2 linked regions of the Homo sapiens genome follow. The protein of the gene in region 1 interacts with the protein of each later gene in a pairwise test. Each region holds a gene or a part of one and is shown on either strand. Other genes may lie near its edges.

Evidence for each region. Proteins that work in one complex are often made in the same cells at the same time.
Region 2: the proteins of THAP4 (region 1) and GPR37L1 interact in binary tests that used the Homo sapiens proteins (3 or more experiments, as listed by UniProt).

Annotation. Positions count from the first base shown.
Region 1 is NC_000002.12:241,634,144-241,641,370, forward strand, and holds the start of THAP4 (peroxynitrite isomerase THAP4), read right to left. Parts: upstream 3,016-7,227; 5' UTR 2,875-3,015; coding exon 2,798-2,874; intron 1-2,797. Other genes in the region: cysteine protease ATG4B, read left to right, coding at 3,572-3,581. UniProt on the Homo sapiens protein: Heme-binding protein able to scavenge peroxynitrite and to protect free L-tyrosine against peroxynitrite-mediated nitration, by acting as a peroxynitrite isomerase that converts peroxynitrite to nitrate.
Region 2 is NC_000001.11:202,118,423-202,125,932, reverse strand, and holds the start of GPR37L1 (G-protein coupled receptor 37-like 1 precursor), read right to left. Parts: upstream 3,017-7,510; 5' UTR 2,970-3,016; coding exon 2,340-2,969; exon of another isoform or gene 2,200-2,339; intron 1,983-2,199; exon of another isoform or gene 1,875-1,982; intron 392-1,874; exon of another isoform or gene 215-391; intron 1-214. UniProt on the Homo sapiens protein: G-protein coupled receptor. Has been shown to bind the neuroprotective and glioprotective factor prosaposin (PSAP), leading to endocytosis followed by an ERK phosphorylation cascade. However, other studies have shown that prosaposin does not increase activity.

The DNA.
Region 1 (7,227 bases):
GTAAAAGCAAAACAAGTATTTTTGCACGCACCCTAAGCCGTATTGACTTCATCCACTTAAAAAAATACTTCAAAAAGATTTAAAGAACATCTTCTACCTGCAGTTATTACTGGAGTAGAAATCTGAAAGACCCGTTGTCTACCCATACAGAGCTTATAGTCTGTAGGGCGGATGGGAAAGAAGGTAACCAACTGCTCCCCAGGCTGTGGTAAATGCCCAATGGGGACACAGGATGCTGACAGACAGTGCCAGGATGGCCTCAGGACAGCAGGAAATAGCTCCTAGAAGCTGACTGCTAACCAACCCTCCCAACTTGCCTGGAAGGTAGGACTCTGGGTACCAAAACCAGGGCCAGCATCCACAGACACTAGGGCGTGAGAGGTCAGGACTGCATGGAGGCAGCCCTGGCTGTGCGCAAGCAGCTGAGAATCTGGAGACCTCCAGAAGACTCCAGAGCTACAGTTCTGTGTTCCTGTTGCATGCCCACCTCCAGGAGTAAAAATGCTCCTTTTAAAAGTCAACCAGCCCAGGGACAGGGCACAATGGTGCTCACCTGCAGTTCCAGTTACTTGGGAGCCTGAGGCTTGAGGGTTCTTTGAGCCCAGAAATTCGAAGTTACAGTGAGCTAAGACTGCACCACTGCTCCCCATCCTGGGGAACAGAGTGAAACCCGGTCTTCTCCCCTCAAAAAAAATCAACCAACTCAGATGATCCTTGAGGACATTATACTGAATGAAATAGGGCAGGTGCAAAAAAACAAACACTGCATGATACCACTCACATGAGGTACTCAGAGTAATCAAATTCATAGAGACAGGAGAATGCGGGTTCCCAGAGCCTAGGGAGAGGAGGACTGGGGTATTAATGTTTAATGAGTCCAGAGATTCCGCTTTACAAAATAAAAATAATTCTGGAGGTGGATGGTAGTGACAGCTGCACAACAACGTGAATGTATTTGTTGCCATGAATTGTACACTGAAAAAGCGGTAGGAAAGGCTGGGAGCCGTGGCTCATGCCTGTGATCCCAGCTACTCTGGAGGCTGAGATGGGAGGACCACTTGGGTCCAGGAGGCTGAGGCTGCAGTGAGCTACGGTCATACCATTGCACTCCAGCCTGGGTGACAGAGTGGGACTCTGTCTCCAAAAAAAGTTAGGATGGTAAATTTCATGTTACATGTATTATACCATAATTTAAAAATGGTGAGAAAAAAGCAACCAGCGCAGGAAGATACTGAATAGGATGTTTAGTCATTTCTTTATTACCTAATAAAGATCCTTCATAACCATTTCTTCATTAAGGCAAACTCTGTGTTTAAGAACATAGGCCTGGGCCGGGCGGGGTGGCTTATGCCTGTAATCCCAGCACTTTGGGAGGCCGAGGCGGGTGGATCACTTGAGGTCAGGACTTTGAGGCCAGAGTTCGAGACCAGCCTGGCCAATATGGTGAAACCCTGTCTCTACTAAAAATACAAAAAAATTAGACAGGCGTGGTGGCGCTTGCCTGTAATCCCAGCTACTTGGGAGGCTGAAGCAGGAGAATAGCTTGAACCCAGGAGCGGGGGTTGCAGTGAGCCGAGATCGCACCAATGCACTCCAGCCTGGGCGACAGAGGGAGACTCCTTCTCAAAAAAAAGAGAAAAAAAGAAAAAAAAACCAGGCCCTAATGTGCACATAAGGGACAGGGTGGTCAGTTCTAACTGCTATTTGCTCCACCTGAGGCCAGTGTGGACCAGGACAAATCCTAACAGGATGGACTGGGCCGTTCTAAGCAACAGGACCTTCTAACCTCCTTTCTGAACACTGTGAGGCCAACTGCAAAGGTACCCCCCCACCCCCAATTCCGATGTCCTTTCCTCCCATACCATGTTAGACCGTTGCAACACGTTGCCTCGTTTTCAAAAAACAATAACAAAACTTCTAGGACACAAGCTCTGAAGGAAATTGTCAAGAAAGTGCGCTGGCTGACTTGTGAAATAATCTAATGTTACTAATTCTTATAATACATTGTAATGATTTAAGACTTACAGCAAACTACTGTGAACTTTCAATAACCCTATAAATAACACGTGCCATTCCCGTCTTTAAAACTTAAATAACACCATGCAACATAAAACAGAAACATCTCCAAAGTGGTTTTTAAAGTCTGTTCGCGGTTCTGGTGCCTCCCGCGTGTAATCCGCAGAAATCTCACTGAAATAGGCTGAACTCACAAGGCCTTAGAGGGGTTTGGGCCCTGCCGCGGGGGCCCACGTGGGAAGCGGCCGAGAGCCCCGGGCCAGGCTCTAAGGGAGCGCAGGAGGATGCCGTCCCCAGCCGGCCGTCCCGTAGACTCTCCGCGCGTACCCGCGTCCTGGGCTCGGGGGCCCAGTCCCGGAAAGCCCTCTCGGGGGCTGTCAGCTACGGAGGCGCAGGTCGCGTCTGCCCGGTCGCTCCTGCTCGCAGACATCCAGGCCGACGGCCCGCGCGGTCCGGAGAGTCAGCAGTCGCGGCCGAGCAGGACAATCGGCCCAGGACCTGCGCTTCCAGAGCGTGCGGCTTCTGAAGCCTAGGCGCCGGCCGGATCGATCGCGCGCAGGGCGGACCCAGGCGGCCGGGGTGGGGGCGGCTGCGCTGCCCGAGGCGCCCGGCCCAGAGACGGCGGCCGGGCCAAGGTCACACAGCGCCCACGCCCGCTCCCCCGCGCCCCGGCCGCCGAGGCCCGGCGCCCCCGCCCCCCGCGTTCGGGCCGGCCGCGGGGCCTCAGTTTCCCCGCAGGGCCGGGTCGGGGCGGGGGCGTGGCGGCCCGGGGCCCGCGTACCTGTGGAAGGAGACGGCGCGCTTCTCGCCCTTTCCCTGCCGGTTGGAGCAGTTCACGGCCGCACAGCAGATCACCATCGCGGGCCTTGGCCCAGCCGCGCAGCCAGGCCCCGGCCCTAGCCGCCCGCCCGCCCGCGGACCGCCCCGAGGGAGGGAGCGCGGCGGCGACACGGCTCGGGACGTGGGCCGGCCCGCGGCGTCCGCGCCGTACGGCAAGATGGAGGCGCAGGCGCCCGCAGCGGGCCCGCCCCCGCCCCAGCCCCCGCCCGCGTCCTCGCCAGCCGCGGGTTCGGGCGTCTTCGGACCAGCGGGGCGCCGCAGGCCCCTCGCAGCGTCCGTCGGCAGGCGGGCAGACGGGCGGGGGAGTCGCCCCGGCGGGGCAAGTCCGTACCGCGACATGGGCGCGCCGAGCACGTCCGTACCGCAAGATGGCTGCTCGGACGGGGACAGAGCTCGCCTCTGCCGCCTCGACAACTGCTCCTGGGTCCTCTAAGAGGAGGAAGCGCCACCCATGGCACACAGTGTCCCGTCGGACAGCAGAACCAGCCGTCGTCCCACGACACGACCCCATGCCGCCCGCAGGGCGCCCCGGGGCTCGCGTCGGCCCGGCCGTACGCCAAAATGGCGGCTCCCGCGTATTTCCGCTCGCGCGCCGTATCGTCTTCGCCGCCTGCGCCGGCACACCTATTGGCCCCCGCGGCGTCCCGTCGCCGCGTCGCGTTGCTGGCCCGTCGGAGCGACGCCGCTCGGGTCAGTCGGCGGCCGGACTGGGAAGATGGACGCAGGTGAGGAGTTGCCGGGGGTCGGTCTTTCCGCAGGAGGTGCTCGCCTTATCATTGGCCTCCCCTGCTCGGGTCGGGCTGCCGCGACTCGCCTCGGGGCACGCCGGTGCGGGCCAGGCTGGGCCGGGGCGGCGGGCGCTGCGGGAGCGCGGGGCGGTGTTGGTGGGTGGTGGGCGGTGGGAGCGGGAGGGGGACGGCGGCGCACTGCGCCGCGGAACCCGCCGTCGGTTGCGCTGGAGCTTCTGCTTTTCCGGTCCCGTCCGGAGCGCTCCGGAGGTTGTGGCTGCACAGGCCCTTGCGCCAGGTCGGCCGTGGAGGGCGGCGGAGCCTGCCGGGCGGGGAGAGGCGCGGCGGCGAACGGGGCGGCCGCGGTCCGGGCCGGGGACGCGAGCGGCGGGCGAAAGCGTAGCCTTTCCGCAGCTGAGCGTGAAGGGATGGAAGCTCTTTAACTTTTATGAAGTTATTGGTAGGTTGGAGGAGAGAAACGTGACGTGTTCATCACAGTATACGTATCTTTTTTGTTTTTGTCTTCAATTTAGTAACCAGTAGATTCTCCAAGCTGCTTTTCCGTGACGAGAAAGAGAAACAGTGAATTTGTATCATCGGGTCTTAGTTTCTTGGGGTCCTAAGAGAGAGAGAAAGAGAAGGAGTGTGTGTGTGTGTGTATAGGGAGTGTTGGTTTTTTTCCTATCCTTTCATGCTTCCGCTCCATTTTTGCTAGCAAGATTATTTTAAGTCAGCGCCAAACCCATCGCTAGCCCAGTAGCCCTAGAAATATTTTTACACAGAAGTTTTAGCTCATTCATTCTTTGTGGGAACTGATTTGCCTTTTACCAAGTATCCCCCATCTGTAAAGAAAGATTTTCATCTGGTTTAATTCTGTCATTCTGAATGGGATTGTTTTTACTTTTTATTTTTCTGGTAGCTACAACATAAATTTATTAAGATCTGAGTTGGAAAACTGTAATGTGTATTGCCAATATCTATTAAAATGATTTGTAGCAGCTCACCACTTAAATGTGGTAGGTGGCTGGAGGAAACAGGAGCCCTGACTCCCTAAGGAGCATGTTGACCAGGTGTATATCTTGTGAAGTTTGTCTTTTAGAATAACCGTCATTCACGGTTGAACTATTTGCAGCTGTGTACTATTTGTTGTTTACTATTTTACAACTGTTGTATTATATCTTTTTAGGTGTTATTGTTTGTGATGCAGGATTTTTCTCAGCCACTCTGGCAGCCAGAGACCTCCGGCTGGCGAGGCCCCTGCCCAGGCCTTGCTTGGGTCCAGGCTCGCCGCAGGAGATACCCCATCTACTTGGTCCACCGGTGGGCACCTGGTTTGCACTATGGCACGGATACCATGGCCACCATGACTGTATGCTCAGCCCCTGGCGGGAGTGGGTGTGTGGGTGAGTGAGTGCCGGGTCCCGCCAGCTGTTTCAAGCGCAGGCACCAGAGTGGGCTCTGCAGAGCTTACAGCTAGACATGTGGCAAGCAACTCCCACGGCGGACTCCAGCGTCCAGACAAAGGGACAGTGGATTCTGGTGTCCAGACAAGGGGAAGGTAGTGGCGCCCAAGCAGGGGTGCTTACAACCCTGAAGCCCAAGAGGGGGTGTTGCAGAGTGTCAGCAGCCCTGTTACTCCCATTGCCCTGCTCCAGGCTATAGCTCTGGGGCTGGCTCCGTCCCCGCTGCTTCCCTTTGCTGCCTCCTGTCACGTGGGGTGTCACAGTGGGTGGCTGCCCTTTGCCGGCAGAGGGCCCAGGGCCACAGTGTTACAGCCTTCTTTGTACTTGCATTCATTGGGTCCCTAGTTCTTGTCCCACGTCCAAGAAGAATGAGACTACACTTAACACTGACAATCGAAGGGTGAGGAGGGTGGAGAATAGTTTTATTGAGTGATGAAACACCCCTCAGCAGAGAGGGGACTCAAGGGTGGTCTTCCACCCAAAGTCGGGTGGTCTCCCTTGGTGTGGCTGGGTCCAGGGCTTTTATAGGCTCAGAATGGGGAGTGTGTGCTGATTTGTCTGTGAGTATGCAAAAAAGGTTAAAACAAAGTCACTACTCAAAGGTGGGCACAACAGTGTAATAAACCAATTAGAGAAAAGTAGGTATATGTAAAATAGGTGAAGGGTGGGGATTAATTAGAGGAAAGCGCACCAAACAGGAAGAGAGGTTCGCAATCCAGTCTGTGGATTTATCCGAGACTCGTCGCTTGGCTTTCAGGCTTTAAACTGTGGCTTGAAGGTTGGGTTTCACTGGTGACCCACCCCTCTCTGCCTAGGATTTGTCTGCCTCCTGCCTCTATCATTTCGATACCTTGAGGCTGGAGTATCATATGAGAGACTTGGCTAAGGTCAAAAACACGGTTCAGTGTCGATCATATGACCTAAAATGTGAAAATCATCATGTTCAAGTTGGGAGAACAGTTATGTTGTTACATGGCGATACTTTATTTTATCTTTTATTTTCCCTTGACAACTGTGTTGACATGGTGATACTTTAATAGGACACTGGATGTTGCTGCATGTGGGATCAGAGTAGAAAAGGTGTTTGCATTTAAAGGTCTCTGTTTATGCTGATAAAAACGTATATGATGTTTGTAGGATATCATGGGGAATTTTCCTTCTGACTTGATGCTGTATTTCCTTTCAGAGATGATTAATGATCTGCCCTCCTTTGATCTCTAGAGTTCTTGAAGATTCTGCCTTCCTTGACCATGTGTAATACAGTTTCTGTTCTGATAGTCATTAATTCAATACACTGTTTGTTACTGACTGTCAGATATGTGTTAGGCATTGTTCTAGACACTAGGACTAGAGAAGTAACAACATAGATGAAAACCATTGCCCTGGGGTAGCTAACGTTCTAGACATGAGACCAGCATTAGCAGCGAAGTGCGTGGCTCCTGGGGGATGGTGATTTGGGCCAAGGATGAGGAGGATTGGAATTGTAGCCAGGATGGCCAGGAAGGGTCTCACTCTGAAGGTTTAAGTTTTGACGAAGACTTAAAGCAGTGTAGGAGGAAGGGCAGGTAGCAAGAGCCTGGTGTGGCTCAGGTGCAGCGGGTGGCGGTGGGAGAAGCAGGAGCTGAGGATAGAAAGGTGACTTAGGCTCAGTGTAGTGGGGCCTTGCCAGCTCATAGTGAGGACTCGGTGTTTATTCTGAACAGGATGGCAGCTCATAGTGAGGACTCAGTGTTTATTCTGAACAGGATGGCAGCCGTTTGGAAGGTTTCATTCTAGAGGAGGAGTCACATGATAGACTGTGTTCAACAGGCTTGCTCTGGCATCTCTTTTGAGAATGTACTGCAGAGGGGCAAGGGCAGAGGCAGCGAGACCAGCTAAGAGACTGTTGAACAAGCCAGCAAGGAGATGCCAGTGGATTAGCTCAGGGTGGGTAAGAGGTTGACTTCTGCATGTGTTTTGGAGGTTGAGACAATAGAATTTGTTTGTAGATTGGAAGTTGGGAGAGGGATGGGTAGAGAGGGAGGAGTTAAAGATGGCCCCATAGTGTATGGCCTGAGCTAAGCAACTCAGATGGAGGGGGGCGGGCGTGGTGGCTCACGCCTGTAATCCCAGCACTTTGAGAGGCCGAGGTGGGCGGATCACAAGGTCAGGAGATCGAGACCATCCTGGCTAACACGGTG
Region 2 (7,510 bases), on another chromosome or scaffold:
CTGGGCAATATGATGAAACCCTGTCTCTACCAAAAATACAAAAATTAGCCGGGCGTGGTACCACACGCCTGCGGTACCAGCTACTTGGGAGGCTGAGGTGGGAGGATTGTTTGAACCTGGGAGGCGGAGGTTGCAATGAGCTGAGATTACACCACGGCATTCCACTCTGGGTGACAGAATGAGACTCCGTCTCAAATAAAGAAGAAGGGTGTTGTGGGTGACAGAGTGAGACTCTGTCTCAAAAAAAGAAAGAGTGTTTTCTCCCTCCACCTGTCCCACCACCCAGCCTAGAAGGAAGACTGTCTACCAGCCTGTGGATCATCTCTATCCTCCAGGAGGTGTGGAGGGGCTGGCCCAGGAGGACATTACATATGTCAGGACCCACAGTCAGGTAGGGCCAGGTGTTCATTGACCTACCAGCCACATGCAAACAAGAGGTCGTATGTGTCTGCCCTTTTCCCCTTCTCCTCTATACCATTTTAATTCTAAGCACTGTATAGACATCACCCATTTAATCCCTTAAGAATTCACCCAGATAGCTATTATTATTATTATCCCCAATTTACCAATGAGGAAATTGAGATTTAGGTAGTTAAAGTAATCTACCAAATCACACAGCTAGTGATGGGAAAAGCCCAGTTTCTAATCTAGTCTGCTCAATTTCAGAGTCCTGTGTCTAAGCATGCACAGCTCACCTGGGTCGTGAGCACAAGATGATAACTAAGAATGCAAAGCCTCTCTCCAGTTGCAGGGTCTTTTTTTTTTTTTTTTTTTTTTTTGAGACAGAATTTCACTCTGTCACCCAGGCTGCGCAATCTTGGCTCACTGCAACCTCTGCCTGCCAAGTTCAAGCGATTCTCCTGCCTCAGCCTCCTGAGTACCTGGGACTGCAGGTGCGTGCCACCACACCCGGCTAATTTTTTATTTTTAGTAGAGATGGGGCTTCACCATGTTGGCCAGGCTGGTCTCGAACTCCTGACCTCAAGTGATCCACCTGCCTCGGCCTCCCAAAGTGCTGGGATTATAGGCATGAGCCACTGTGCCTGGCACAGGGTCTTCTTTCAGGGTGGAGTAACTTTGTACCACTGTTAGTCAGTCTCCCTGGGTTGGGAAGGACAGGAAAGGACTGTACCCACTGCTGAGACACAGGGAGTCTGTCCAACTATGACATCATCATTGTTACATGGTGAGGTGGGGACAGACCTTGGAATAGGACCTGTGTCCGTAATGCTGATCCTGAGCCCTTCTCCGGCCAGGCAAGTCCCCCTTGTCATGCAGCATCATTCACGAAGGAACAGCAGCTTCACAGGGAGACCACAGTCACTCCATTACACTCCATGCAGCCAAAATTTGAAAGACTGTTTGCTTATTTTGTCTTACAGAGAGAGAGAGGGTGGCCTTGCTGTGTCTTGCATAAATGCACACATCAGTATGTTTCTGCAGTGTTTTAAGTTGTCTCTCTATGCTCTACATATCCTTTGACACCCATGGACTTATCGTAGACGCTACCAGAAGTAAGGGCATAGTGGTATACTTTAGAACTGTGAAACAGGCCAGCTGGAAGGACCATCTGGTCTACCCGCCCTGGTTGGGAGATAAAGAAATTGGAGAGGTAATGCAACCTGCCCAGTGACGCCCAGTATGTCAGTGGCAGAGCTAAGACTAGAGCCCCCCATTAGTTCCAGTGCCCAGAACCAGGTATCCCTTTCAGAGAGGATCTAGGAAGTTGCTGATGGAAATGACAACGATAACAATGAGAATCCCAGCAGGGAGGGAAGAACGGAGCGGTCTTTTGCTTCTGGTGCTTGTATTCTCATGGAGTGGATGCTGACTTGATCCAGAGGGGTGTGAAGGAAATTGGGCTCTCCCTTCAGGCACTCCTTCAGGAGGCAGGAGACGGAGGAGCAGCGAAGGAAGCTGTGGGAGCAGGGCAGCGGCAGGGGGTACAGAGGAAAGAAGAGGAGTCACAACAAAGGACAGAGGTATCTTGGGTGGGACAGGGGAGAAGGGCTGAGGAAGGGAGAGGGCAGCTTAGGGTCTGGAGAAAGTGGCAAAGGCCTGCCTTGAGGTTGCTCCCGAAGCAGAAGATCAGGCTGGGGCTGGAACCCAGGGGCCCCACACACCCGCCTGTCCCCCTGGCCTGCCTACTTCTCTTGAGAGCAACCAGAAACCAATACCGTATTTGTCTCCTTCTCCAAGGTAAAGGAGGAGCAAGTCAGAGCTCCAAGACTCAGGTTTTGCACACCCACAAATTCCATTTCCAAAGACCTGATGGAGACTTTGAGTCCCTTCCCTGGATTGCAGCCTCCCAGCAGAGCTCAAACAGAACACACACTCACCTCCATGAAGGGCACGGCACGACAAGAAACGTCACCCAGTAGCCTCTGCTTGGTGATCTCGTTGAAGATGACAATAGGGAGGCAGAAAAAGAGGACCAGAAAATCCCAGAGGGCCAGGCTGGCAAGGATGGAGTTCCAGGCACTCTTCAGGTAGTAGCTGTGCCACACGATGCACATGACCGACAGGTTGCCCACAATGCCCACCGCAAACACCACCAGCGCCAGAAGCATGATGGCATAGGCACTGTAGGAGCTCTCGGTCACCGGATACAGGGGGTTCTGGATCTGTAGCCTCTGCCCTGGTGCTCCTGTCAGATTGCCCCTCAGTTCCTGCCCACTGTCTGGGGTGCCCCCATCCTTGCCGGGGTTAGGGCTGGTGGCCACCAAGGGCTTGGTTGGCTGCAGGCCAGCAGGGTGAATGGGCCGGGGGTACTCCGCCCACTCCTCAGGCACATACTGCTGCACGCCCTTGGCCTCCTCATCCTCGGTGCCCCTCTTGGATCGGCTCTGCTGCTCCTGGGTCTCGGCTCTGTGCCTGCCCAGGTGCAGGGGGGCACCCCCAGAGACCCTGCTTAGCCCCACAGCCAAAATCACAGCAAGAGAGACAGCCAGGGGCCACAGCCACCGCATGGCTGGATGAGCAGGAGACAGCCAGCCCAGGAAGAGCAGGTGAGTGCAGGGGGCCCAAGAGCTGGGCTCCAGAGAGGCAGCTGGCCGGCTGGATCCGCCTCCAGTCAGGCGTCTGGCATCACTCGCCTGCCCTCCCTCCCAGCCTCCGGCCACAGGCCGGGCAGGGCCCTCTGCTGGACACATAGCACTCTTTGCTGCCCTCACACATCTCGTCCTCCACGACGCCGCTTCTCAGGCCCTACAGCATGTCAGGCTGTGGGGCCCTAAGAGGGCATCTGCTTCAGGCCCCTGAAACTAGGGAGGAAATGTGGCCTGCCTAGGGTGACACAGGGAGGTGGGGCAGAATGGGAACTGGGGCGCAGGTCTCCTGATTCTAAGGCAGCTCCTCCATTCAAAACTCAGCAATAACCATCACTGTCACTTACTGAACACTTACTAGGTGCTAGCACTCAGCTGGTTTCTCAATTAACCCTTGATTAATCTCAGATCACAAATCTGAGGTTTGTAGAGGTCAGTCACTTGCCACATAGTTGATACAAGGCAGAGCAAGGCCCACAACCCAGATCTGACTCCAGAGATTTCTAATTTTTTTTTTTTTTTCGGTTGCCCAGGCTGGAGTGCAATGGCGCGGTCTTGGCTCACTGCAGCCTCCGCCTCCTGGGTTCAAGTGATTCTCCTGCCTCAGCCCCCTGAGTAACTGGGATTACAGTTACTGTAGTGCCCGCCACCATACCCGGCTAATTTTTGTATTTTTAGTAGAGACAGGGTTTCACCGTGTTGACCAGGCTGGTCTCAAACTCCTAACCTCAGGTGATCCGCCTGCCTCAGCCTCCCAAAGTGCTGGGAGCCACCGCACCCGGCCTAAAACACCATATTCTGAGCCAGACACAAGATGTGTGGACATTTGCAATAACACGTCTTTACTGACTACGTGTTGTGTTCCAGACACTCAGAATACAAAAATGTAAAGGATCTCTGCCACCAATGAGCTTTCAGTCCAGAGAAGGAAGTAAATGTGTAAGTTCAGCATGATAGATGCTATGAAAGGCAAAGGTCATGATGCTGAGGGAACCCAAGAAAATCTGGGGGGGATCTGGAAGGCCTCCCAAGCGAGGTGACATTTGAATGGATCCCGAGAAATGGCTGTGAGCTTGCCTGACAGACTACGGGAAGGGAGGGTGCTCTAGGCAGAAGACACAGCACACACAAAGGCTGGGTGATGTGGAAGTGGGTGATGTTCCCGCAAGAGAGCAAGTCTGTCGAGGGGACTAGAGTGCAAGGGAGGTGGGGAGAGAGCATGGGCACTTGGGACAAAGAGCTTGGAAATATCAGCAGAGGAGGAACTGGACTGTAAAGGACTTTGTATGCCAAGCCAAGGAGTTTAGATTTTATCCCATAAGCAATGGAGAATATCACAGGTTGTTAAGTAGGCAAACAATGACTCAACTAAGTTATTTTAGAGGGGTCCCTGATGGGCAGCTGGGGTCCTAGCAATCTGGAACAGGAGGATGCAGAGACCGGGGGTTCTGTTGGGAGGCAGTGGGTGATGGAGAGAAGCCCAGAGTCAAGGAAAACCAGCAGCTTTGAGCGGCTTTGGCTGTGCATGGGAGGGAGAGGTCGAGGCAGAGCCCAAGCATGGGGTGGGTAGTGAATCCACTCAGCCACATTAGGGAGGCACAGTTCTGAGGACGGACCACACGATGCCTAGGAGAATCCACTGGAGAATTAACTCGAAGACCTGCCCCAGAGTGAGTCAGATCATTCCCTCCTCCCAACTCCCACGGCATTATGCTGCTGTCATTGAAACCTACCACCTTCACCAGCCCAGACAACATGGTGAAACCCCATCTCTACTAAAAATACAAAAATTGGACAGATGTGGCAGTGCACACCTGTAATCCCAGCTACTCGGGAGGCTAGGGCATCAGAATCACTTGAACCCAGGAGGCAGAGGTTGCAGTGATCCGAGATCATGCCACTGCACTCCAGCCTGGGCAACAGAGCAAGACTCTGTCTCAAAAAAAAAAAAAAAAAAAAAAAGGGCCAGACGCAGTGGCTCATGTGTGTAATCCCAGCACTTTGGGAGGCTGAGGTGGGCAGATCACAAGGTCAGGAGTTCAAGACCAGCCTGACCAACATGGTGAAACCCCCGTCTCTACTAAAAATACAAAAAAAAAAAAATTAGCCACGCGTGGTGGCAGGCACCTGTAATCCCAGCTATTTAGAAGGCTGAGGCAGGAGAATCACTTGAACCCGGAAGGCGGAGGTTGCAGTGAGCTGAGATTGCGGCCAATGTACTCCAGCCTGGGCGACAGAGCAAGATTCCATCAAAAAAGAAAGAGAAAAGGAAAGGAAGTTGGGGGAGGGGAGGGGAGGGGAGAGGAGAGGAGATGAGAGGTGTGCTATTTGGGGATTTGGGTAACTAGAATCATCCATCATCTGCAGCATCACCACTCACCAAGTGCCACACTCTGTGCTAAATGCTTGCTATAATTGTCACTTAATCTTTATATTATTACCCTAGACTCTGAAAGGTAAGGCAACTTTCCTAAGAACACACAGCTAGTGAATGACAGCTGGGATCCAAATGTAGGTTTGTCCAACTCCAAAGCTAAAACTCTTTTTTTTTTGAGACAGGGTCTGGCTCTGTTGCCCTGGCTGGAGTGCAGTGGCATGATCTTGGCTCACGGCAACCTCAGCCTCCCAGGCTCAAACAATCTTCCCACCTCAGCCTCCAGAGTAGCTGGGACCACAGATGTGCACCACCACACCTGACTAATTTTTGTATTTTTAGTAGAGACAGGCTTTTTGCCATGTTGCCCAGGCTGATCTCAAACTCCTGAGCTCGAGTGATTTACCCGCCTCAGCCTCCCAAAGTTCTGGGAATACAGGTGTGAGCCACCTCACCCAGCCCAAAGCTGAAACTCTTAACCACTCCTTTGTGTGACTTCACAGAATTCTAACATAGGAAGAGATGCTAGAGATAATCTACACCAACCTTCTTATTTTTCAGGAGTGGAAACGGAAGTCCAGAGAAGCCAAGTGACCAGGCCAGGCACTTGGCAGTCCTGTCTCTGCTGTGGGATCCTCAGTGCTCCACAGGCACGTGCCAATACAGTATGGACCCAAGCCCAGGGCTGGTACGTGTGAGCAGAATAAATGTTAGTTCTCTGCTCTTTAAAAAAAAAAAAATTCAGAGACAGAGTCCTGCTCTATTGCCCAGGCTAGAGCACAGTGACATGATCATACTCACTGCAGACTTGAACTCCTGGGATCAAGCAATCCTTCCACCTCAGCCTCCAGAGTAGCTAGGACTACAGGTGCACACACCCTGCCTGACCTTCTGCTTCTTATTTTATTTTATTTTATTTTATTTTATTTTATTTTATTTTATTTCAGAGACAGGGTCTCGCTCTGTCACCCAGATTGGAGTGCAGTGGCAGGATCTAGGCTCACTGCAGCCTCAACTCCTCCTGGGCTCAACTGATCCTCCCACCTCAGCCTCCCAAGTAGCTGGGCCCACAGGCACATGCCACCATGCCCAGCCTTTTGTGTTTTTTTTGGTAGACATAGGGTCTGCCTGTATCACCTAGGCTGGTCTAGACCTCCTGAGCTCAAGCAATCCACCCACCTCAGCCTCCCAAAATGGTGGGATTACAGGCGTGAGCTACCGTGCCCAGCCTCTTTATGCTCATGGATATGCCTCCATCAAACCTCACATTTGGCCTCACACAGAGTAGGTGCTCAATAAACACTGAATGCCTGAAAGGGCACCCCCTTGTGCCGGTCTCTGTGAGAACGGTTGGAACATCAGAGGCCACTAGGTGGAACCAAATGTCCAGTGATGGTAGTTAAGGGCCTGGCCTCAGCCCTTCACCCCATCGGATCTTAACCCATCCCACTCTGCCCAGGTCCTGCCCACAGACCTTCTGTGGCTGTCTGAGAAGGCCATCTGAAAAGAGATGATAGGGGACAGGGTGGGTTCCCAGGGGCTGAGACTAAAGGGATGGGGGATGTGCCTACTCTTCCCCTCCACCCCCCTGGAGGGTGCCCAGCATGGGTCCCCCAAAAGTACTTTTCTCCTACCTGTAGTTCTACTTTAGGAAGATTCCTCTCTCTGGACAAGCTGGAGCCATCTCCCCTATTCAGAAGCATGCCAGGCAGAGATGGAAGGCTTTCCTAGCCCTTGGGAGTGTCTCTCCATGATCCCAGGAATTCCCCATTCCTCTCCCTGGGAGTTTCCCCAGTGCTGGCTACAGAAAAGGTACTTAGCTGGGGCCGGGCGCGGTGGCTCACGCCTGTAATCCCAGCACTTTGGGAGGTGGAGGTGGGCGGATCACGAGGTCAGGAGTTCAAGACCAGCCTGACCAACATGGTGAAACCCCGTCTCTACTAAAAATACAAAAATTAGCTGGGTGTGGTGGTACACGCCTGTAATCCCAGCTACTCAGGAGGCTGAGGCAGAAGAATCGCTTGAGCCTGGGAGGCAGAGGTTGCAGAGAGCCGAGATTGTGCCACTGCACTCCAGCCTGGGCTACAGA